Linked DNA regions of Homo sapiens: all the other regions are linked to region 1. The links come from fine-mapping of genetic effects on gene expression. A gene starts in region 1. Each other region holds a variant in brackets. All regions are shown on one strand. Distances are from middle to middle.

Region 1 (8,183 bases):
GATTAAGAACAGTCTTTCCGATCTAGCAAATCTGAATGTGAACATGTTATTTTGGAAAATACGTTCAACCTTCATAACCCACAGATTTCCTCATCTGTGAAATGTGGAATATTATCTATGTCATAATATTTTGGAGAGGATTATATGAAACAATTCTTCTAAATGCTGGGCACAGTGTCTGGCACATGGTAACTGTTCAATGAACAGCAGTTCTTTTTTTCTAAAAGTTGTTTTTTTTTTTTAACTATAGGTAAAAGGCAACTTGGTGACTTTTAAAAATCGTTATTCATTCATGCTAAAATGTAAGGAGTTGAGTGGAGTGTACTGTGTCTGGGAGGAATGTACTCCTGTACTGTGTTTCTGTGGCACCACGTGACATTAGAATTAATGAAGTTACAATGAATCACTACAGGGGTCCGGCGGACGTTAGCTATCTGGAAATACCTACCTATGGCTGTTCTCCATTTGAGTTTAAAAAGTATGTGAAATCATCTCATTTCATTATTCTAAACCTTCCAATGGCTTTTCATCAGGCAAATCTGAGTCTGTAGAATGGCTCATATGTCCCTATTTAAGCTGGCGCCCACTTCTGTTGGATGTTATCACTCACATCTCTCTGGTTTTGTTGACTGCCTTAGACACAATCACCATGCTACAGAGTGACCATAGCCTCAACAGTTTAGCCAGAGTCCAATAGTGGTTTCACATTTTGCCCTCACCCCATCTGGCCTCCATACGCTCACTCTCCACGCAGATGCCTCCTACAATACCACAGGCGTGTTTTCATTTCGATGTGTTTGCACTTGTTGGTCACCTTCCTAGAAGGCTTCTCTCTCAGGGGCTTATGTCTTTGTCCCTCACTTCTGTCAGGTTTTGACTCAATGTCATCTTCTCAGGGAGGCCTTCCTTGATTATTCTGTTTGATATGCTACCCTCCCCGAAAGTTAAATCCTATATTCAAATCTTTCTCAATAACATTAACACCGTCTCATCTTTTATACTGACTTAGTTATTTGTTTATTTTATTGATGGTGTGCCTCCATTTTTTTAATTTTTATTTTTTATTATACTTTAAGTTCTAGGGTACATGGGCACAATGTGCAGGTTTGTTACATATGTATACATGTGCCATGTTGGTTTGTTGCACCCGTTAACTCGTCATTTACATTAGGTATTTCTCCTAGTGCTATCCCTTCTCCCTACCCCCACCCCACAACAGGCCCTGGTGTGTGATGTTCCCTGCCCTGTGTCCATGTGTTCTCATTGTTCAATTCCCACTATGAGTGAGAATATGCGGTGTTTGGCTTTCTGTCCTTGTGATAGTTTGCTCAGAATGATGGTTTCCAGCCTCATCCATGTCCCTACAAAGGACATGAAATCATCCTTTTTTATGGCTGCACAGTATTCCATGGTGTATATGTGCCACATTTTCTCAATCCAGTCTATCAATGATGGACATTTGGGTTGGTTCCAAGTCTTTGCTATTGTGAATGCTGCCGCAATAAACATACGTGTGCATGTGTCTTTATAGCAGCATGATTTATTATCCTTTGAGTATATACCCAGTAGTGGGATCACTGGGTCAAATGGTATTTCTAGCTCTAGATCCTTAAGGAATCGCCATACTGTCTTCCACAAGTGTGCCTCTATTTTACTATAAACTCTATGAAGGAAAATAATTTTCTCTATTTTGTTCACTGCTGTATTCACAGCATGCCTGGTGCAGAGTAGGAGCTTATTTTTTAATGAATGAATAAACTCTAGGGGCATTTTTGCAAACACCTTATCCACTTTTCTAACAGACCAAACCCTTGGCCATTTGGCCATAAGCAAGATCGGTTATCACTCACATCTCTCCTTCTGGTTTTGTTGACTGCCTTAGACACAATCACCGTGCTTGCTACAGAGTGACCACAGCCTCAGCAGTTTAGCCAGAGACCAATAGTGGTTTTACTGTCATTCAATATCAGACCAGTGTTCTATAGTCACATATTTTGCTCTGGCTTTATTCTACTCTTATTTTTTCTTCAGGTTTACTCTCAGAATGACATTTTATAGGATAATTATTACAATCCAAGTAGAAAAAATTTCTGCATCCATTGGTTTGGGATCATAGCAACATTTGGGAAGAGTCTCACTACCTCTATATTCATTTTCTGACAAAAGCCCACTTTCCACCTTTTGCTAGATATGAATAGAGGAAAAGAAAGACTTACTCTTTTCTTTAAAAAAAAATGTTACTCAACCAAATCCTCCCTATAGTTATTAGAACCCTCTGATTTCCTCTACTCTTATGTGAAAATTATACTGAAACTTAATTGACGGCTCTAAGACTTTCTTCTTGACTTAAAACTTTGAGAATTCAATAGTTTAAAACTTAAACAGTCTTAAAACAGCACAAGTCAAATGCTTGGCATGACATGGAATGAATATCAGATTGGTAAACAATTGTAATATTATCAATGATAGTAAATTCAGTTAGATATCAGAAAATAATAATGTGTCATAATAATTTCATGCTGATTTTCTGCCTCAGTTTCTAGTTTCTTCCCATCCATCCACAGGCCATGCTATCCATCATGTGTTACCTCACATTGGTGTTCCCCGCTTCTTTCACTCAGAATGCTAACTCTTCAGAGACACAGGAAAGTGCCAGTTTCAACAAATGGTAAGTAGGTTCGTTACTGATATGCTCGAGTATTTTTGTGGCTTGTCTCTTTCTAAGCTGTGATACTTTTCAAACTAGAAACTATCAGGTAGTAATGATATTCAAATCTTTGATCTTGAATATGATTTTTTTTCCAGAAAGTGTTCCCCTCTCTTGAGAGAGTGAAGTATGTTACTCATTAAGCCTACACTTTATATATATATATATAAAATATATAAAATATATGTATAAAAAGTATATATATATATATAAAATATATAAAATATATGTATAAAAAGTATATATATATATATATATATATATATTTTTTTTTTTTTTTTGAGATAGTCTTGCTGTGTCACCCAGGCTGGAGTACAGTGGCACAATTACAGCTCACTGCAGCCTTGATCTCTTGGGCTCAAGCAATCCTCTCACCTCAGCCTCCCGAGTAGCTAGGACCACAGGCACGTGCCCCACACTTGGCTATTTTTTTGTATTGTTTGTAGAGATGAGGTTTTGCCACATTGCCCAGGCTGGCCTTAAACTCCTGGACTCAAGCAAATCACCTTAGCCTACCAAAGTGTTGGGATTACAGGCATGAGCCACTGCAACTGGCCTACACGTTGTATTCTGAAAGGAATATTATGGATGAAAATGCACTGGGACTTAATCATAGTATTGATATTTTGTAGAGGAATTTGGAATAACGTAGGTTGTTATTACAGCAAGTTTGCAATGTGTCTTAAATATTCCTTAGTTCATACATGTAAAATATTTTTCCTTCCTTCCTTCCATCCTTCCTTCCTTCCTCCTTCTCTTTTTCTTTCTTTCCTTTCCTTTCTCTCTCTTTCTTTTTCTTTCTCTCCTTTCTTTCTTTCTTCTTTTCTTTCTCTTTCTTTCCTTTCTTTCTTTCTTTCTTCCTTTCTTTCTTTCTTTCTTTCTTTCTTTCTTTCTTTCTTTCTTTCTTTCTTTTCTTTCTTTCTTTCTTTCTTCCTTCTTTCCATCCCTGTAGAGCAGGGGTAACCAATAGGCAGTGTGCCCAGGGTAGCCTAAAGTGTTCAGAGTCTTTTAACCAAGGCTCAGTAAGACAAGTGATGTTTGCTTTTCATGCTAACTTGATTGAAAAAAATAAATGTATGAGGTTTAAATTTTTTTTCCCAAAGTTGTGATTATCTACAGGCAAGCCATGCAACACCCGTTAAACATTAATATAAAACTACTGCTCATCTTTAAAGCAATGATTTAAAGCCATAAATGTAACAGGAAGATCTAATTCTGGAAGACATACAAATGCCGAAAGGAAAATTAAAGCCACTTACCCCGAGGAAGAGATGAAGGTGAAGAACTTTCTGGGCCTGAGTCTGTGGGTAAGTTTAACTCAGCATATATTGCTTGTTGGTCCATGGCAGACAGAGGAAGGTGGCATTAAACTTGTGTGTAAGAACAAACTCTCAATTCTGTGAGGCAAAATCAGCAAAAGGAAGCTTTCTGCCTGCAGTACTTTGTTGTCTCTCTTTTGTCCCCACCCACATACACTTTTTGTTGGTGGTTATCTCCATAAATTACTGAGACAATCCACTGACTGCATGTTCATTATACCTAGCTATGTAATATCTACTTTCCTTAATTAACTGGCCTGTTGTTTGAGAAAATTCTGGGAGGCTCATTTGTTCTTGTTTTTCTAACCATCCCTTTTGTGTTCCTCTCTCAGGGCCAGGACCAGAGTGAAGCAAATGAGGCATAGCCTGGGGTTCCAATTTAAGGGGCCCCCAACAAAACTCACTAATTAACAGAAATAATATTTAGCACAATTTTGTAAAAGTAAAAATTAATGCAAAAAAGTCCATAATGCTATTCAAAGGCTCTAAAATCTTCCTGAAATATCTGTGCTCCAAAGAAAGTTGTGAAATGTGAAAAATGGAAACATAAATGTGAGAAAGCCCCCTGAATAACACAACAGAAAAAGCAATGTGCTAAAGATCAGTAGCCTACTGTTAGCTTAGCTCTAAAGGCACTCTTGGATATGATAGCATTTTCACATAAGTAAAAGTATTTGGAAACTGCCAGAATTGTAGGAAGTGGAGTATATGGAATTTTTTATCTCTTTGAAAGACTTTCTTTTTTTTTCAAGGTGATTATAGTATGTGTCTACTTTTTTTTTTTTACCTTTTTTTATTATTATTATACTTTAAGTTCACAATGTACAGGTTTGTTACATATGTATACATGTGCCATGTTGGTGTGCTGCACCCGTTAACTTGTCATTTACATTAGGTATATCTCCTAATGCTATCCCTCCCCCCTCCCCCCACCCCACGACAGGCCCCGGTGTGTGGTGTTCCCCTCCCTGTGTCCAAATATTCTCATTGTTCAATTCCAACCTATGAGTGAGAACATGCGGTGTTTGGTTTTCTGTCCTTGCAATAGTTTGCTCAGAATGATGGTTTCCAGCTTCATCCATGTCCCTACAAAGGACATGAACTCATCCTTTTTTATGGCTGCATACTATTCCATGGTGCATATGTGCCATATATTCTTAATCCAGTCTATCATTGATAGACATTTGGGATGGTTCACGAGTCTTTGCTATTGTGAATAGTGCCACAATAAACATATGTGTGCATGTGTCTTTATAGCAGCGTGATTTATAATCCTTTGGGTATATACCCAGTAATGAGATGGCTGGGTCAAATTCTAGTTCTAGTCCCTCGAGGAATCGCCACACTGTCTTCCACAATGGTTGAACTAGTTTAGAGTCCCACCAACAGTGTAAAAGTGTTCCTATTTCTCCACATCCTCTCCAGCACCTGTTTTTTCCTGACTTTTTAATGACTGTCATTCTAACTGGTGTGAGATGGTATCTCATTGTGGTTTAGATTTGCATTTCTCTGATGGCCAGTGATGATGAGCATTTTTTCATGTGTCTGTTGCCTGCATAAATGTTTTCTTTTGAGAAGTGTCTGTTCATATCCTTTGCCCATTTTTTGATGGGGTTGGTTGATTTTTTCTTGTAAATTTATGTAAGTTCTTTGTAGATTCTGGATATTAGCCGTTTGTCAGATGGGTAGATTGTAAAAATTTTCTCCCATTCTGTAGGTTGTCTGTTCACTCTGATGGTAGTTTCTTTTGCTGTGCAGAAGCTCTTTAATTTAGTTAGATCCCATTGGTCAATTTTGGCTTTTGTTGCCATTGTTATTGGTGTTTTAGTCATGAAGTCCTTCCCATGCCTGTTGCCTGAATGGTATTGCCTAGGTTTTCTTCTAGGGTTTTTATGGTTTTAGATCTAACATTTAAGTTTTTAATCCATCTTGAATTAATTTTTTATAAGGTGTAAGGAAGGGATCCAGTTTCAGCTTTCTATATATGGCTAGCCAGTTTTCCCAGCACCATTTATTAAATAGGGAATCCTTTCCCCATTTCTCGTTTTTGTCAGATTTGTCAAAGATCAGATGGTTGTAGATATGTGGTATTATTTCCGGGGGCTCTGTTCTGTTCCATTGGTCTATATCTCTGTTTTGGTACCAGTACCATGTTGTTTTGGTTGCTGTTGCCTTGGAGTATAGTTTGAAGTCAGGTAGCGTGATGCCTCCAGCTTTGTTCTTTTGACTTAGGTTTGTCTTGGCAATGTGGGACCTTTTTTGGTTCCATATGAACTTTAAAGTAGTTTTTTCCAATTCTGTGAAGAAAGTCATTGGTAGCTTGATGGGGATGGCATTGAATCTATAAATTACCTTGGGCAGTATGGCCATATTCACAATACTGATTCTTCCTATCCGTAAGCATAGAATGATCTTCCATTTATTTGTGTCCTCTTTTATTTCATTGAGCAGTGGTTTGTATTTCTCCTTGAAGAGGTCCTTCACCTCTTTCAAAGATTTTCAGGCATAGAACCTTAGAGCAAGACCTTAGGTGGATTGGGTTCCAAGATGGCCAAATAGGAACAGCTCCAGTCTATAGCTCCCAGCGTGAGCGACACAGAAGATTGGTGATTTCTGCATTTCCAACTGAGGTACTGGGTTCATCTCACTGGGGCTTGGCAGACAGTGGGGACAGCCCATGGTGCAGGGTGGGGCATTGCCTCACCAAGGAAGCGCAAGGGATTGGGGAATTCCCTTTCCTAGCCAAGGGAAGCTATGACAGACGGTACCTGGAAAATCAGGACACTCCCACCCTAATACTGCACTTTTCCAATGGTCTTAGCAAATGGCACACCAGGAGATTATATCCCATGCCTGGCTCGGAGGGTCCCATGCCCACAGAGCCTTGCTCACTGCTAGCACATCAGTCTGAGATCAAACTGCAAGGTGGCAGCGAGGCTACGGGAGGGGCATCCACCATTGCTGAGGCTTGAGCAGGTAAACAAAGCTGCCAGGAAGCTCAAACTGGGTGGAGCCCACTGCAGCTCAAGGAGGCCTGCCTGCCTCTGTCGACTCCACCTCTGAGGGCAGGGCATAGCTGAACAAAATGCAGAAGAAACTTCTGCAGACTTAAACATCCCTGTCTGACAGCGTGGGAGAGAGTAGTGGTTCTCTGAGCATGGAGTTTGAGATCTGAGAACAGACAGACTGCCTCCTCTAGTGGGTCCCTGAGCCCGAGTAGCCTAACTGGGAGACACCTCCCAGTAGGAGCTGACTGACACCTCATACAGCCAGGTGTCCCTCTGAGATGAAGCTTCCAGAGGAAGGATCAGGCAGCAACATTTGCCGTACTGCAATATTTGCTGTTCTGCAGTCTCCACTGGTGATACCCAGGCAAACAGGGACTGGAGTGCACCTCCAGCAGCCTCCAGCAGACCTGCAGCTGAGGGTCCTGACTGTAAGAAGGAAAACGAACAAACAGAAAGGACATCCAAACCAAAACACCATCTGTGTGTCACCATCATCAAAGACCAATGGTAGATAAAATCACAAAGATGGGGAGAAACCAGAGCAGAAAAGCCAAAAATTCTAAAAATCAGAGTGCCTCTTCTCCTCAAAAGGAATGCAGCTCCTCACCAGCAACAGAACAAAGCTGCATGGAGAATGACTTTGATGAGTTGAGAGAAGATGGCTTCAGGCGATTGGTAATAACAAACTTCTCCGAGCTAAAGGAGGAGTTCGAACCCATCGCAAAGAAGCTAAAAACCTTGAAAAAAGATTAGACAAATGGCTAACTAGAATAAACAGTGTAGAGAAGACCTTAAACGACCTGATGGAGCTGAAAACCATGGCACGAGAACTACATGATGCATGCACAAGATTCAGTAGCCAATTTGATCAAGTGGAAGAAAGGGTGTCAGGGATTGAAGATCAAATGAATGAAATGAAGCCAGAAGAGAAGTTTAGAGAAAAAAGAGTAAAAAGAAATGAATGAAGCCTCCAAGAAATGTGGGACTATGTGAAAAGACCAAATCTATGTCTGACTGGTGTACCTGAAAGTGATGGGAAGAATGGAACCAAGTTGGAAAACACTCTTCAGGATATTATCCAGAACTTCCCCAACATAGCAAGGCAGGCCAACATTCAAATTCAGGAAATACAGAGAATACCACAAAGAT
Region 2 (8,183 bases), 140 kb before region 1:
TTTCTGAGGCTGTTTTTAATGAATAATCTACAGTCTCAGGAAAAGCAATAACTGTATTCAAGCAAACAAGCTCTTCTCTAACATGGAGTCAGTACTGTTACAGTTTTTTTTTTTTTTTTTTGAGACAGAGTCTCTCTCTGTCACCCAGGCTGGAGTGCAGTGGCGTGATTTCTGCTCACTGCAAGCTCTGCCTCCTGGGTTCACGCCATTCTTTTGCCTCAGCCTCCCAAGTAGCTGGGACTACAGGCACCCGCCACCACACCCGGCTCATTTTTTTTTGTATTTTTAGTAGAAACGGGGTTTCACCGTGTTAGCCAGGATGGTCTCGATCTCCTGACCTCGTGATCCGCCCGCCTCGGCCTCCCAGAGTGCTGGGATTACAGGCATGAGCCACCGCACCTGGCCATGTACTGTTCCAGTTTTATCCAATAGTGCATACAATTTAGAAGCAGTGAAAAACATTCTGATTATGACCAACTTTAAAGATGTAATGTCAGTCCATTCTGGCCAATGTGGAAACAGGTTCTATGGTCTTTCCATATCTTTCAGTGTTCTCAGAACCAAGTTTCAATAGCCTTAATATTTCATTACTTTTGAGAAAAAAAAAAAGTTGCCCTCTGACTTCATGCCAGAAAAACTGCTAAGGATTTTATATTATCTCCTTAAATCCTCACAGCAACGTTGATAGATTAAGTCAATCCCTCAGGATTGGGTTTGCCTGTGATAGAAAACTCACACTCCCTTGCCCCCTTATGAACAAAGTCTGAAGGTAAACTGTGCAAAATGATGAATACCTCTGCTAGCATAAGTGATCTAGGTTCTTTCTATCTTTTGGCTCTTCTGCCTTTTAATATATCACTTCCTGCTGATGGTTTAAGATCACTCTTTAGCCCCAGGCATCGTGTTTCATTCTAGTCACGAAGAAGACAGACAGGATAGAAATGCATGTGCCCTTGCTCTTTAAGAATACTTCTTGAAAGTGCCATATGGGACTCTGCCTTCCACTGCTTGGTCAGAACTTAGCTACGTGGCCACACCTAGCTGCAAGGGAGGGTGGAAAACATATTCTCCATTCCAGGCAGCCAAATGCATGGTTTTTTAAAAAGGAAGAAGAGTATTGGAGGACAGTTCCACAGAGGTGTTATAAATACCATTTTGTGGATGAGAAATCAGGTGCAACGATATTGAGCTCTGACCTTTGAAGGAGCATAAAGAACTAGTCAGGAATACCTGTGTTCTTTTCCAGTGAATTCACAGCTGGAGTCACCCTAGCAGTGGCATCTGGGGTGCCACTGCTGGCATCAGGGGAGTTCCCACAAGGGAGTACCGCAAGCCATCCCAAGATGGGACCAGTTGGAATCCCAAAGAAAGAAGCACTAGATGCCAGGGTGATCAGTTCAAATTTATTACGAGAACTTAGGTAGAAACTGGGTTTCACCATTTCCTCCAGATAGGCAGTTAGGGAAAGAGGTGCTCTACCTAGCGAGGTCTGCAGCACGAGGATCAGGGAATGGAGTTGATGAGAGATTAAGGCATTTGGCTCAGGGCCTGGCCAGTTCCTCTCAGTGTTTGGGGCAACAACCTAAACACCTTTGTAGGTGTCTGGGAATGTTCGAAGCGAAACCTTGGGTTCCAGCCTGCAGGGCAAATTGTGTAGCTGATGGGGTCACAGGACAGTTGAGGCACTCTCTGTTTCTTGGTTAGGACAGAAAACGGGAAAACGGAGTACCCTTCAACTACTATGCGGTAGCGGGGAGAAAGTTTCAGAATGATTTTAAAAACTAAATTAGAATGAACTTCAGTTATTCCAACAATAGCATAACTTGTTCTATGGCAATCTGACGTGCTTTCTTACATGACGGGGGCTGTAGTCAGCAGCACTCCACTGTATGTATCCCACAGCCCACCTTCTTATGCTCTCATCCGTAATCCAAATATACCCACGGGAGTGTGGCAACCCTGTGAATTTCACCCAACACGTGTGGAGATAGAAAAGGGAATTGAAAACCAAACCCGATGCTGCTCTGCCACCCTACTCTCTTCTTGTGTCAGTGAAACCTTTCCTGAAAACTCAAGGAGATGCTTCCAGAACTGTTCTGTCACTTGGGCTTACCCCTAGTATAGATACTGACAGCCAACAGTTTCCTAGGGAGATAAGAGACAAGAAGCCTAAGGTATCTTCCAAGATCAAATCTACCTCCTTAGTCCTAATCCAAAGTTGTCCATCCCATTAAACCAAAGGTGGGAGAATCTACTATGGAGTGGCCTCACTGACATCCAGACAGACAACTGGAATAAGCTTTAGCCCCCAGTTCTAAATATTCACAGTGACTCACAAGTGGTTCGTAGATAGACCCAACTTCTTCAGGTGGACTTTGGTGCTTGTGCCTCCGTTGACCTTGTTAACCAAAAAGTGACTGCGACATGTTTCAATCAATTACAGGTTTATTTAGCCAAGGCTGAGGACACGCTGGGTCCCTGCACTGCCTTCTTCTCTGTTGGTCTCCTGAAAGCCTCTGCTTAAGGAGGTCTCCGTGGCCATCTTTAGCATCTCAGAGTGAATTAAATCCCCCTTTCTAAGGGCATTTTCCCGTGAAGCTTTATTCTCTGTGACATAAGGGGAGAGGGATTTTTAGAGAACCTGGGGTGGCGGGGGCTTTGGAGAGAGGGGGGATTCTCAGGGGATTTCCCTCTCCCCAGAGATACATCTCTCCATGAAACAAACAAACAGAAAGCACACAGTACAGTGCACAGCACACAGTCAGTGCTCAGGAAGCGTTGGTTCCCTGTCTGCCTACTGCAGTTGGTACAAACAACACTCAGGGTGCCAAGCTTCAGTTTGGTGAAGAAAAGCATAGCCCACATTCCAGTTCTCGGGCCTCGTCTTGAAGGGTAAGGGCAGCTCAGGCCCTGGCATTGCTTGTCCTGAGGACAGGCCAGCACGTCCTGTGCCTGGTGGTCTCCAGAAATGCTGTTGCCTGCCTGCTGCCACTCTGCATCTCAAGCTTATCCCCCCATGCCTTGCCAAAGCCCACTCCATCTCCCTCCCCTCCCAATCCACCTGGAGCTCCCACCTGTCATCTTTCCTTCCCA[C/T]CGTGGGGCAGGTGGCGATCTGCAGGCCTCCCTGAGAGAGAACTGCCCCTACCCTGCCTCAAAGCCAGGGGCACTGATCCAGCTCTCAGCTCCAAGAAGATGGACTGGGATCTTCCCTTAATGCCTTCTGGGGTCTGGGAATAAAGATGGAGAGAGGCACTGAGCTGAGCACAAACAGGAAAAGGAAGAGCTCATGGCTCAGAGCTGAAGAAGACAGGACCCAGTGAGCAGAGGACTGTGTCCCCATAGGGAAAGACATGTTCTGGTAAAAGGCAGGTCAGGAGTTCAGGAAGGATTCAGGCTCAGTAGGGACTCCGGCTCACTGCCCTCTGCTTGGGAGAGCAAACCCTCCTAGGTGAGGTTTCCTTTCTGTGCCTTTACTGCAGGGAGCTGGTGTCAGAATCAAGGGCACCATCAAAACAGGATACCACAGACATCTCAGCTGTGCCAAACTAATGCCCAAAGGCTCAGCTGTTGCAGGTAGGGGTGGGAGGGCAGGCCCTCACAGGTGGGCCTCCTCACAGGCCCACCCTGCCCTTTATGGCACAGCCCAGGACCGTTAGGTCAAAGCTGACTTTTCCCAGTCTCAAAGCGCCGTCTTATCTGTTGCTTTATTTGTAACTCACAACAGGCCTCTGAGTCAGGCAGGGCATATGTCACTCCTATTTCATAGAAAGAGAAACTGAGGCATGGGGTGGGCTAAGTGACTTGGGCCAGAGGGTAAGTGAATTGGAGTCAGGACTCAGATCTCCTTGGATCCACACCAGACATCCTCCCACATGGAACCCTCTCCCTAATCTTAACACTTCCATGGCGTCATGCCTTCATCAGCCATCACAAGAAAATGAGGCCACAGAAATTGCATGCATGTTCATGTGTGTGTGTGCCTGTGTGTGTGTATATACACAAGTTCATGTGTTTGTGCATGTGTGCATATGTGCATGCGTGATGCCTTACTTGCTGAGGGAAGGGGAGGAGGGTTGGCAGCTGCTGATGATTTTCTCTATCTTGAATGTTGTAAGTGCTTTTCCCAGGAGAGCCAGATAGCCATGGTGTGTCAGGAGAGGTCTCAGAATGAGACTTATGAAGTGAAGATGAACAATGACACAGAGGCCTGCAGTGAGCCCAGTCTGCTCTCCACAGAGATGTGAGCTCTGCTGTCCTCTGCCCAGGATGGCCTGGGTGTGGAGATGGGTCTGGGGAGGCAGGGGCAGGTCCTCAAGATCCCTCCTCTGGGCATGATTTGTAGGAGGAGGGGATATCACAGAGAAAAAACCTGCACGGCCTCTGTCATCTTCTTAGTGGAATGGGGGCCCCCATCTCTCTTTTTCACACACACACACACACACACACACACACAGCCCTTTTTAGTTTGGCCTTCTTCTTAGTGGAATGGGGGCCCCCATCTCTCTTTTTCACACACACACACACACACACACACACACACACACCCCTTTTTAGTTTGGCCTTTCCTGACTGGGAAAACATCTAAACATGGTTTCTTAAACTGTTTAGGCTGTAACCAACAGACATAAATATATTTTCTGGTGACACTTAGTGCACAAATACATATATTGACAAACAAGTGTTTTGTGACACTACTATAAAATAAAGCTGCCCAGAAGAGGGCACTGGTGGCAAATCTAGGCCTGAGATTATTTTGACCTTGCTGGAATTTTTTGAATATTTTTGCTGCATATCTAGATGCATTAGAAGGTTGTGGCATCCATTTGGCTTTTAAATGCCAGCTATGAGAGAGGAGGTGGCCGCAGCACTGGCTAAAGGGCAGAAGGAAAAAGGGAAAATTCTCCTCCAAGGGAGCAGACCAATGTTGCTTAGACCCTAGCTCTGATCACCCTTCTCTCAAAACTCTGCATCCAAACCTCATCCTCAGGTTGATCTCTTCTACCCTTGACTGCTCTGTTCCCAGATGTACTGGGTTGAAAAAGTTCATGTCCACTCAGAACCCGGAATGCGACCTTGTTTGAAAATAGGGTCTTTGCAGATGTTACCAAGGTAAGGGGAGCTCAGTGGATAAAAGTGGGCCCTACTTAGTCCAGTGATTGCTGGTTTTATTAAGAAGAGAACACACACACAGACACACACGCACCAAACACACACACACACATATACACAAGAATGTGCCCTGTGAAAATGCAGGCAGAGCTTAGAGTGGCCTGGATCTGTATGTTGCTTCAGTTCTGGGAGCTCCCATGAGCCTGCAGAGAGATTGCAGGGTCTTCCTGAACAGTTCCTGAGGAGGAAAGAGAGACTCAGAGGATTGCCCCGATGTCGCCCTTCTCTCCTCCTAAACTCTGCTGGGCTCTCCCACTCCCCCAGGAAGACTTCCCTGCTAACTTCTGCCCTGCAAGTTGACCCTGACATTTTCAAGTGCCACCTGCCCCTGTGAACTTGAATGGATTGCGCTGTTCTTTGCACAAGAGCAGAAACGTCTGCCTGGAGTGCGGCTTGTCCTAGTGGCTGGGACTTCCCTGACACACAGCTCCCCCTGTCTGCCATGGAGTGGTCTCACTGACATCTGGGCAAACAACTGGAAGAAGCTACAGCCCCAATTCTAAAGGTTCACAGTGACTGGCAGCTGGTGTTGAGACAGACCCGCCTTCTGCAGGTGAACTTTGGTGCTGGCCTCGGTTGTCCTTTTATAGACATTACCTATTGTGAGGGGCACGACTTTCACCCTCCTGCCCCACCAGTGTGGCAGTGCATTTTTTATTCTTTACATTTTTTATTCATATTATTTCTTGTTCAATTGAAGATGTACTTCTTCCTGAGTGTGCCTGTGGCACAAGAGGCTTTCTGAAAGAAGCTGCTTAGGTGACTCAGCCTGGAAGCTGAGGCAGGTTGCAAGGGGGCATCTTCCTGAGCCCTCAGTATGTCATCCATGAGGGACTGGATGGGCTCCGGGGACTCATTCTTCACTCCTTCCAGAGCTGAAACCAGAATGAGGCCAACTCAGACTCTGGACCCTAAGCACCGCCTCCCTAACCCCCTTCTTCCCACCCCATGCCAGGTCAGCATTGCACAGCTCTGCTTAGAATCATGTTTGCACTATAAAAGCAATACTTGTTTCACTGTAGGAAATACTTAATACACAATTTATTTTAAGGAAAAGAAGAAAAATCACTCATCCCAGAGATAACACTGCTAATATTTGGTAGCTGTCCTTGCAGTCTTTTTTTAAAACAGCAACCAAACAAACAAACAAACAAACAACAAAAAACAACCAAATGTTGATAGATTTTTTTTTCACAAAATAGGACTAGTAATTTTTTTCATTCCATAATATATTCCTCTATACAGCATAACAGGCAATCACATGATTCTACCATAACTTTTTTTAAAAAAAAACAGGGCCTCAACCAGTCGCCCAGGCTAAAGTATAATGGTGTGATCATATCTCACTGCAGCCTCAACCTTCTGGGCTCAGGTGATCCTCCTACCTCAGCCTCCTGAGTCATTGGGACTATAGGTGTGAGCCACCACATCTGACTAATTCTATCATAATTGTTTTGGTAAATACCCTATTTCTGAATAATTAGATTCTTTGCAATCTTTCACTGTTACAAAAAGTAATCATAAATTCATTCAGCAACTATATATTGAGGACTTACTATTACCAGGCACTGCTAGGGGCTGGGGATCCAGGGGAGGACAAGAAAAACAGATTACCACCCTTGAGAAGTTAGCATTCTGGTGGGGGAAAGACAAATCAGCAGTTAAATGCAAATTAAGTAAAAGGGAGGAAGTTGAGGGGAGTTCTGAGACCAAATGACTGGGGAGGAGCCCTTAGGCCCATCAGGGGATGCTTCTCTGAGAAGGTGATGCTCCAGCTCAGACCCGAAGTTGAGAGCCAGCCTAGGAACACACAGGGCAAGGGCAGAAGACTTCCACATGGTGTGTGTGGGGGTCTCTTTGTGTCATAGAAAGTACCAGTGTGACTGCAGTTCCCAGAGGGGCAGGAAGTGGTGTAGGCTAAGGGTGAGAGGCCTCAGAGGTCAGGACATTCTGAGTTGGGTGAGTGAGAATATGGGAGCAGACTGAGACCCTAAGAGCAGTAGGGAGCTGCTGAGGGGTTTAAAGCAAGGAGTGGCATGTTCCAGCATGCGTGTTCTAAAGAGAATCTGGCTGCTAAGAGCAGAATCGTATAGAGAAGAGGAAGAGGGTGTTGGGAGGCTGTTAAAGTGGTCCTGTTAGGGAATCATGAGGGTGTAGAGTAGGGTGGGAACAGAAGAAATGGAGACAGGAAATTCCTTAGCATGAAAAGGACAAAGACGAGAAAGAATCTTGGTTCAACAAAACTTGTTCGTTTTAGGCCTTCAAACCCATCAATGTCTACAGCGTCATGTTCGTTTCATTCACTTAGAACAGAACACAAGAACGGGGCTGAAGCTCTAACAGAAAAGACATAAGACCCTTGAGAAAGCATTACTTGAACACAAGGTTTCTGGGACATTAAACATGGGTATAAGTGCTGCTATAGTACCTTTCTGGGGAAGACTTCCTCCTGTCTCGGGGACTTAGGCATCATTATCAAAGGCAGGGTGGGATGAAGAAAGTAAGGTGAATGCTCTGGTAGACTGAGAAGTCTAGGATATACAGGGGGACTTCAGGTGTCAAAACAAGAGGAGAAGGCTTCAGAAGCACACAATGTCAGGGTTGGAATTGAAGCCAGGTTGCAGCCCAAAGGGGACAGACAGCCCTGCCAGTTACTGGTGCTTCAGAGGTGGCACGGCTGCTCTCGGAGAAGCAACTGACTATTTCAGTTTTCCCTGACTACAGCTATAAGGACGCTCCCTACCTGCCACCCTCCATATCATCCCCCGCCCGCACCTAGACACCCGAATCAAGGCAATGAAATTGTCTTGTGGGACATCTATGTGCCCAGCAAAGCTCAGCACATTTTGTGCATTTTTATTCAATAATGACAATGGTGTTCAAGATCAGCGCTGTTACCCTCATGACACGGATGAAGAAAGGCCTAGAGATGAAGTCACGTGCCCAAGTCTGCAGGGTCCTGACTCATAGAGCTGGTATGGAAACTGATCAGGCTGGTTCTGGAGCCCCTGCTT
Region 3 (8,183 bases), 730 kb after region 1:
GAAGTTTGGGAGATTAATGGGACACAATCAGCTGGGAGAGCACGTGTGTTTTTATGAGAATTATGCCGAGATAGGTAACAGATGAGGATGAAATTTGGGCTTGACTGAAGTAATGGGGGCTGTCTACTAAGCCTTGCAGCAGTACAGCCTAGGTAATTTGCTGAGCCTAATGGGTGTCAGGGTCAGTCTAAGTGAAAGCGAAGAGAGGCTGGGACGAGAGGTGCAGGGGAATAGTGAAAAAAGCATCTTTAAGATCAAGCACGGAACAGTGAGTTGTGGAGGAAGGTATTGAGGACAAAAGAGTGTACGGGTTGGGCACTGCAGGGTGGATAGGCAAAACAATTTGGTTGCTAAGGCGCAGATCCTGAACTAACTTGTAAGGCTTGTCTGGTTTTAGGACAGGTAAAATGGGGGAATTGTAAGGAGAGTTTATAGGCTTTAAAAGGCTATGCTGTAGCAGGCGAGTGATAACAGGCTTTAATCTTTTTAAAGCGTGCTGCGGGATGGGATATTGGCGTTGAGTGGGGTAAGGGTGATTAGGTTTTAATGAGATGGTAAGGGGTGCATGATCGGTCACCAAGGAGGGAGTAGAGGTATCTTATACTTGTGGGTTAAGGTGGGGGGATACAAGAGGAGGACGCAAAGGAGGCTTTGGATTGGGAAGAAGGGCGGCAATGAGATATAGCTGTAATCCAGGAGTAGTCAGGGAAGCAGATAATTTAGTTAAAGTGTCTCAGCCTAATAAGGGAACTGGGCAGGTGGGGATAACTAAAAAGGAGTGCTTGAAAGAGTATTGTCTAAGTTGGCACCAGAGTTGGGGAGTTTTAAGAGGTTTAGAAGCCTGGCCATCAGTACTTACAACAGTTATGGAGGCAAGGGAAACAGGCCCTTGAAAAGAAGGTAATGTGGAGTGGGTAACCTCTGTATTGATTAAGAAGGGGACGGGCTTACCTTCCACTGTGAGAGTTACCGGAAGCTCGGCGTCCGTGATGGTCTAGGGGGCTTCCGAGGCGATCCGGCAGCGTCAGTCTTCAGCTGCTAAGCTGAGAAAATCTGGGAAGGAGTCAGTCAGAGAGCCTTGGGCCAGAGTTCCAGGGGCTCTGGGAGTGGCTGCCAGGTGAGTTGAACAGTCCGATTTTCAGTGGTGTCCTACACAGATGGGACGTGGCTTAGGAGGAATCCCAGGCTGCAGGCATTCCTTGGCCCAGTGGCCAGATTTCCAGCATGTGTAGCAAGCTCCTGGGGGAGGAGGTTCTGGAGGAATGCCTGGCTGCTGCGTTTCAGACGTTTGGAAGTTCTTGTGTGCTGGAGATGTGGCTGGGGTTTGTCTCACAGTGGAGGCAAAGAATTGCAACTTTTTTCTGTTATTGTACACCTTGAAGGTGAGGTTAATGAAGTCCTGTTGTGGGGTTTGAGGGCCAGATTCCAATTTTTGGAGTTTTATTTAATGTCAGGAGCAGATTGGGTAATAAAATGTATATTGAGAATAAGACGGCCTTTTGACCTTTTAGGGTCTAGGGCTGTAAAGTGTCCCAGGGTTGCTGCCGAACGAGCCATGAACTGGGCTGGATTTTTATATTTGATGAAAAAGAGCCTAAACACTTCTGATTTGGGAGAAAGAAAAAGGAGCGTTAACCTTGATTATGTCTTTAGCTCCAGGAACCTTTTTAAGAGTAAATTGCTGGGCAGGTGGGGGAGGGCTAGTCAAGGAAAGAAACTGTAAGCCGGACCAGGTGTGAGGAGGGGAGGTGATAAAAGGATTATAGGGTGGAGGAGCAGAGGCTGAGGAAGAATTGGGACCTAGCTCAGCCTGGCGAGGAGCAGCCTGGGGAGGAGGGGAGAGGTCAGATGGGTCTGTAGAAAAGGAAGATTAGAAAGACTCAGCGACGCTTGGGGTTGGTACTGACGGGACAGGCGGGAGGGAAAGAAGGAAGATTTGGGACGAGTTGCACTGGGCACAGAGACTAGGGAGGGACTGATGTGTAAAAGAATGCCTGGATGTCAGGCATCTCAGACCGTTTGCCTATTTTACGACAAGAATTATTTAGATTTTGCAGGATGGAAAAATTCAAAGTGCCATTTTCTGGCTATTTGGAACTACTGTCGAGTTTGTATTGGGGTCAAGCGGCATTGCAGAAGAAAATAAGGCATTTAGGTTTTAGGTCAGGTGTGAGTTGAAGAGGTTTTAAGTTTTTGAGAACACAGGCCAAGGGAGTAGAAGGAGGAATGGAGGGTGGAAGGTTGCCCATAGTGAAGGAAGCAAGCCTAGAGAAAAGAGAGAGTAGAGAAATGGAGGGAAGGGGTTCGGGGGTTCTTACCTTCCAGAAAAGTGGGAAAAGGGGTTGGGGCACAGAGATAAGAGGTTGGGGTGCGGAAATAAGGGATTGGGGTGCAGAGATATAAGAGGTTGGGGCACGGAAATAAGGGATTGGGGGTTCTTACCCCATAGAAAAGCGGGACTTGCCGCTAAGGGTGAAGGAGAAGGGGTTGAGGGGTACTTGCCCCTGTCCCAGAAAAGCAGAGAAGGGGTAGAGACAAGGAGAGAAGGGGTTGGGGTACTTGCCCCTTCCCCAGAAAAGCGGGACTTGCTGCTAAGGGTGAAGGACCAAGGCAGGTGTCCCTGTGTGGTCTGACACCCTTGAAACGTGAGTGTATAATCAGAGAGGTGTCCCTGCAATGATTAAACACCAAGGGAAGGCTGCCTTCCCAGTCCGTGACCGGCGCAGGAGTTTTGGGTCCATGGATAAAATGTGTCTCCTTTGTCTTTCCCAGAAAATGAAAGGAATAGAAATTAAGAAAAGGGAGAGATTGAAGAGTGGAAAGGAGAAAGTGGTTGAGGGACAGTGAGAGAGGTTGGAGAAGAGAGTAAGAAGAGGACACTTACCTGATTTAAAATTGGTGAGATGTTCCTTGGGCTGGTCGGTCTGAGGACCTGAGGTCATAGGTGGATCTTTCTCACGGAGCAAAGAACAGGAGTACAGGGGATTGATCTCCCAAGGGAGGTCCCCCGATCCGAGTCACGGCACCAAATTTCATGCGCGTCTGTATGAAGAGACCACCAAACAGGCTTTGTGTGAGCAACATGGCTGTTTATTTCACCTGGGTGCAGGCGGGCTGAGTCCGAAAAGAGTCAGGAAAGGGAGATAAGGGTGGGGCCGTTTTATAGGATTTGGGTAGGTAAAGGAAAATTGCAGTCAAAGGGGGTTTGTTCTCTGGCGGGCAGGAGTGGGGGGGTCGCAAGGTGCTCAGTGGGGGTGATTTTTGAGCCAAGATGAGCCAGGAAAAGGACTTTCACAAGGTAATGTCATCAGTTAAGGCAAGGACCGGCCATTTACACTTCTTTTGTGGTGGAATGTCATCAGTTAAGGTGGGGCAGGGCATATTCACTTCTTTTGTGATTCTTCAGTTGCTTCAGGCCATCTGGGCGTATATGTGCAAGTCACAGGGGATGCGATGGCTTGGCTTAGGCTCAGAGGCCTGACACAAGTTATATGATGAAAGATGCAAATTAGAAAATATCAGCCAAAATGTTTGAACACTGACTTAGCATGTTTATGCACTATATTTCTCGCATATATGCAAAGTTTTGGCTTAACTGTTTCCAGAGCAATATACTTTAAATTTTAAAATACACTCCTTATAAAAATGAGGTACTTATAATGCTTAACATTAAAATATATCCCTAAATACTAAAGAACTTATCATCAAAATCTGTCCCACCTGTCCCATCTCCCCATCCTTCTCTCTTGAGATTTCATTTGCTCCAGAGGTTTTCTGTGATAGAACCAGAGTTCTCATTCTATATTTGACCACACCAAAGTATAGGTAAAGGTGAGGGTGATCCATTTCACATCACCACCCTATCAGATGTCCAGAGATCCATTTGCCTTTTTGCGGTCTTATGAACAGTTGTATGGGGAGTGGTGATCCAGATGGTCTCAAATAGGATGGTGGTGTCTGCTGTCAAAAGGAAGTCCACATCAGAAGCTGCCTTCCCCTAAGAAGGAGCACGTTTTTCTCACTCAACTAGAGCCTGAGCTGTGCTTCTTTGGAGGTTCCTGTTGCCCCTTCAGCTCTCACATCACTTCAGGGCACTGATAGCAGAAGATGCTGGCTTGAGTAGAGGTTAGTGGTGGCCCAAGGCAGAGCAGCTTTTTTTTTTCATGGTTTGGCCCCTTCCTTCTTTTTTTTTTTTTTTTGACACCCAGGCTGCTTGCTTGCTTGCTCTGCTACCCAGGCTGGAGTGCAGTGGCACGATCTCAGCTCACTGCAACCTCCGACCTCGGGTTCAAGAGATTCTCAAGCCTCAGCCTCCTGAGTAGGTGGGATTACAGGCAAGTGCCATCATGGCCACCTAATTTTTGTATTTTTATTAGAGATGGGGTTTTATCATGTTGGCCAGGCTCTTGATCTCAAGTGATCCACCCGCCTTGGCTTCCCAAAGTGCTGGAATTACAAGCATGAGCCA[C/T]CACGCCCGGCCAGCTTGGCCCCTTCCTATTAGTCATACTTAACAGAGGCCTTTCTGATTTCTCTCTTTTTCTCGATACTTCCTCCCTGACCCTTGCCTGCATTCCTGGGAATTTATTTCTAGTCTTTGGGAAGGGGAAGACCACTTTTATATACAAGATTTTCTTTAAAAAAATCCTTTTTGTTTGTGGCATGATATTTCTCTGAGTAGAGACCTTTTTCTTTTTTCTTTTTCTTTTATGCTTTTACTATGAAATTAGAAAATTAACATGGAATAATCTAGCTGAGTGAACAGCAATGTATTGGAAGCATAGAGGCATAAGGAAAACACACACAAATAAGTGTAAGTTTATTCTTCCAAAATAAAATCCTGCTACATCTACATGCTCCTAAATAGTATACCATTTCTGCCATTTTTAAATTTATGGAACTGCTTTTTATTCTAATTAGAGCTTAGAAGTCAATTCATACACATCAGGACTATCAACTCTTCCCCTCTTACGAATTTCCTCATTTTTTAAACTTGAGAGATAACACAAATAAAGTGCACAAATTATAAGTACTTGATGAATTTTTTATTCATGCATACACCCATACAGTTATTAACCAGTTTGAGATACAGACTGTTCCTAGAACCAACAAAGCCTCCTTCATGCCTCGTGTCTATTAATAATTATTCTTTTAGCCTTAAGAAAACCACTATTCTGATGTCTAACTTTGTAAATCATTTTTGCCTCTTTGTGGACATCATGTAAGTGAAATAATGAAGTACATATTCTTTGCATCTGCATCCTTTCTCTCAGCTTAAAGTCTGTGATACTTTTTTAAATTTTATTTTAAAGTCAGGGGTACATGTGCAGAATGTGCATGTTTGCTACAGAGGCAAACATGTGCCATGGTGGTTTGCTGCACAGATCATCCCATCACCTAGGTATCAAGGCCAGAATCCCTTAGACATTTTCCCTGATACTCTCCCTCCTCCCCACCCACCCTCTGACAGGCCCCAAGGTATGTTGTTCCCCACAATGTGTCCATGTGTTCTCATCATTCAGCTCCGTCTTATAAGTGAGACCATGCGGTGTTTTGTTTTCTGTTCCTGCATTAGTTTGCCGAGGATAATGGCCTCCAGCTCCATCATGTCCCTGCGAAGGACACGATCTTGTTTCTTTTTATGGCTGCATTGTATTCCATGGTATATATGTACCACATTTTCTTTATCCAGTCTCTCACTGATGGGCATTTAGGTTGATTCCATATGTCTGTTATTGTGAATAGTATTTCAGTGAACTTACATGTGCATGTATCTTCATAATGGAATGATTTACATTCCTTTGGATATATACCCAGTAATGGGATTTCTGGGTCAAATGGTATTTCTGCCTCTAGGTCTTTGAGGAGTCACTACACTGTTTTCCACAATGGTTGAACTAATTTACATTCCCATCAACAGTGTAAAAGCGTTTCTTTTTCTCCACAACTTTGCCAGCATCTGTTGTTTTTTTGACTTTTTAACAATAGCCATTCTGACTGGTGTGAGATAATATCTTGTGGTTTTGCTTTGCATTCTTCTAATGATCAGTGATGTTGAGCTTTTTTTCATATGTTTGTTGGCCGCATGTAAGTCTTCTTTTGAGAAATGTCTGTTCATATCATTTTCCCACTTTTTAATGGGGTTGTTTCTTTCCTGTAAATTTGTTTAAGTTCTGTGTAGATGCTGGACATTAGACGATGGTCAGATAGTTGGATTGCAAAACTATTCTCCCATTCCATAGGTTATCTGTTCACTCTGATAATAGTTTCCTTTGCTGTGCAGAAGCTCTTTAGTTTAATCAGGTTTGTCAATTTTTTGTGTCAATTTTTGGTTTTGTCACAATTGCTTTTGACATCTTCATCATGAAGTCTTTGCTCATGCCTATGTGTGATACTTTTTATTACCAGTAGAATTCCATTATATGAATATACAACAATTTGCTTCTATTGTTCTACTCGTGATGGCCACTTTAGTTATTACCTATTTTTTAATATTATGAATAAAACTTCTCTAAACATTTTTATTTTTCTTGTACATGTACGCTTTTAGTGGATATGTATCCTCATTTCCCTTACATGCATATTGAAAAAATAAATTTCTAAGTCATAGTGGAGGCATGTATTTAGATCTAGAAGGTAATCCCAAACAGTTTTCCAAAGTGCTGGGAAAAATGTATAATTTTACCAGTGGTTTTATATGACTCTCTGTTGCAGAAACCAGCCAAATTGTCCCACAGAACTGATGTTTATTGTTTCTTTTAAACAAACATAGAAATTGACCCTCTCAGTCTTAAAACTTGAGAAACCTACATTTGTCTAATCTGAGTTTCCTTCCTAGGAAACCAACCATCAGACCTCCCAGAAAGTATCAAGGAACTGAAACTTACCAGATCACCACATCTGGACTATGAGAGCCAGACACCTAACCCATCATAGTTGCCTAACCAACCACCTGCTTCCTGTTGACCAACTCCTCTTCCTTACCCCTCCCTAATTCCTATTTTCCCACATACAGTTACATTTTTTTTTTCCTGCTACATAAACCTCTAATTTTAGTCAATTGAGGAGATGAATTTGAGACTGACTTCCCATCTCCTCAGCTGCGGCACCCAAATAAACCCTTCTTCTCTGGCAACACTTGTCTCAGTGGTTTGCTTTCTGTGCAGTAAGCAATGGCTGTTTCAGTAACATTGCCTGCTTCCTTGCCAACACTTCTATTGTTGATCTTTTTTTTTTTTAAGCTTCACATATTTTGGGCCATATTATACATTGGCATATAATTGTAGCTTAAATCTGAATTCTCTTATGATTAATGGCACCTATAACTTTTTGGTCATTTGGATGTCCTCTTCTGTATAATGTCTGTTAAGCCTTTGGCTACCATTTATTAATTATATATATTTGCATACATATAATATACATATATTTTCTAAGTTTTTTGCGTGTGTAAATTACCTTGTATTTTGCATACATACACACAGACTGGATTTTATATTGAAATTGTATGGAAGCTATATTTCTAGATTCTACATGTATTAGAAGAGAACAAACACCTTAACCGTGCTGAATCTTCCAATCCATGAACAAAAATTATCTGTCTATTTATTTAGGTTGCCTTTACTTTTTTTTTTTTTTTTTTTTTGAGACGGGGTCTCGCTCTGTTGCCTGGGCTGGAGTGCAGTGGCATGATCTCCGCTCACTGCAAGCTCTGCCTTCCAGGTTCACGCCATTCTCCTGCCTCAGCCTCCCGAGTAGCTGGGACTACAGGCGCCCGCCACCACGCCTGGCTAATTTTTTGTATTTTTTTAGTAGAGACGGGGTTTCACCGTGTTAGCCAGGATGGTCTTGATCTCCTGACCTCGTGATCCGCCTGGCTTGGCCTCTCAAAGTGCTGGGATTACAAGCGTGAGCCACCGCGCCTGGCCTGCCTTTACTTTTTCACAGAAAAACTTCACCAATTTTAGCAATAATGTCTGACAAAATTCTTGTTAGATTTTTTTCTTAGGTATTTAATAGTTTATGGTGTTATAGAATATGGTCTTATTTATCTACTTTCATTTTCTAATATTTTGTGGCTGGTGAATTGAAAGCGTTTGCTCTTTTTTTTTTTTCAGCTTTATTGAGGTATAATTGATACATACCCTAAAGGGCACATGTTTAAAGGTACATGTGTTTCGACATATGTG

Direction of the effects. Positions count from the first base shown, and alleles are read on the strand shown. Sizes are in standard deviations (SD) of each study's normalised expression. Not every link is listed here.
As copies of C replace T in region 3, the expression in monocytes of the gene that starts at base 4,128 in region 1 goes down (moderate effect, 0.65 SD a copy in BLUEPRINT).

What was found.
Region 2: its variant is fine-mapped to the expression of KLRB1 in testis (GTEx, PIP above 0.99).
Region 3: its variant is fine-mapped to the expression of KLRB1 in monocytes (BLUEPRINT, PIP 0.95).

The regions. Positions count from the first base shown.
Region 1 is chr12:9,603,789-9,611,971 of GRCh38, forward strand. KLRB1 (killer cell lectin like receptor B1) reads right to left here and starts at 4,128. Exons shown (of 6, transcript NM_002258.3): 1 at 3,967-4,128. The coding sequence starts at 4,051.
Region 2 is chr12:9,463,596-9,471,778 of GRCh38, forward strand. It overlaps the pseudogene OVOS1P. Among named protein-coding and RNA genes, the nearest start is that of LINC02367, 100 kb to the left of the region's middle. RefSeq lists a silencer at 5,662-5,711. The variant C/T (reference allele first, on the strand shown) is at 3,094.
Region 3 is chr12:10,335,161-10,343,343 of GRCh38, forward strand. It overlaps LINC02617 (long intergenic non-protein coding RNA 2617), which reads right to left and starts at 3,132. Exons shown (of 3, transcript NR_159946.1): 1 at 2,885-3,132; 2 at 952-1,149. RefSeq lists enhancers at 2,868-3,446, 3,447-4,026. The variant C/T (reference allele first, on the strand shown) is at 4,469.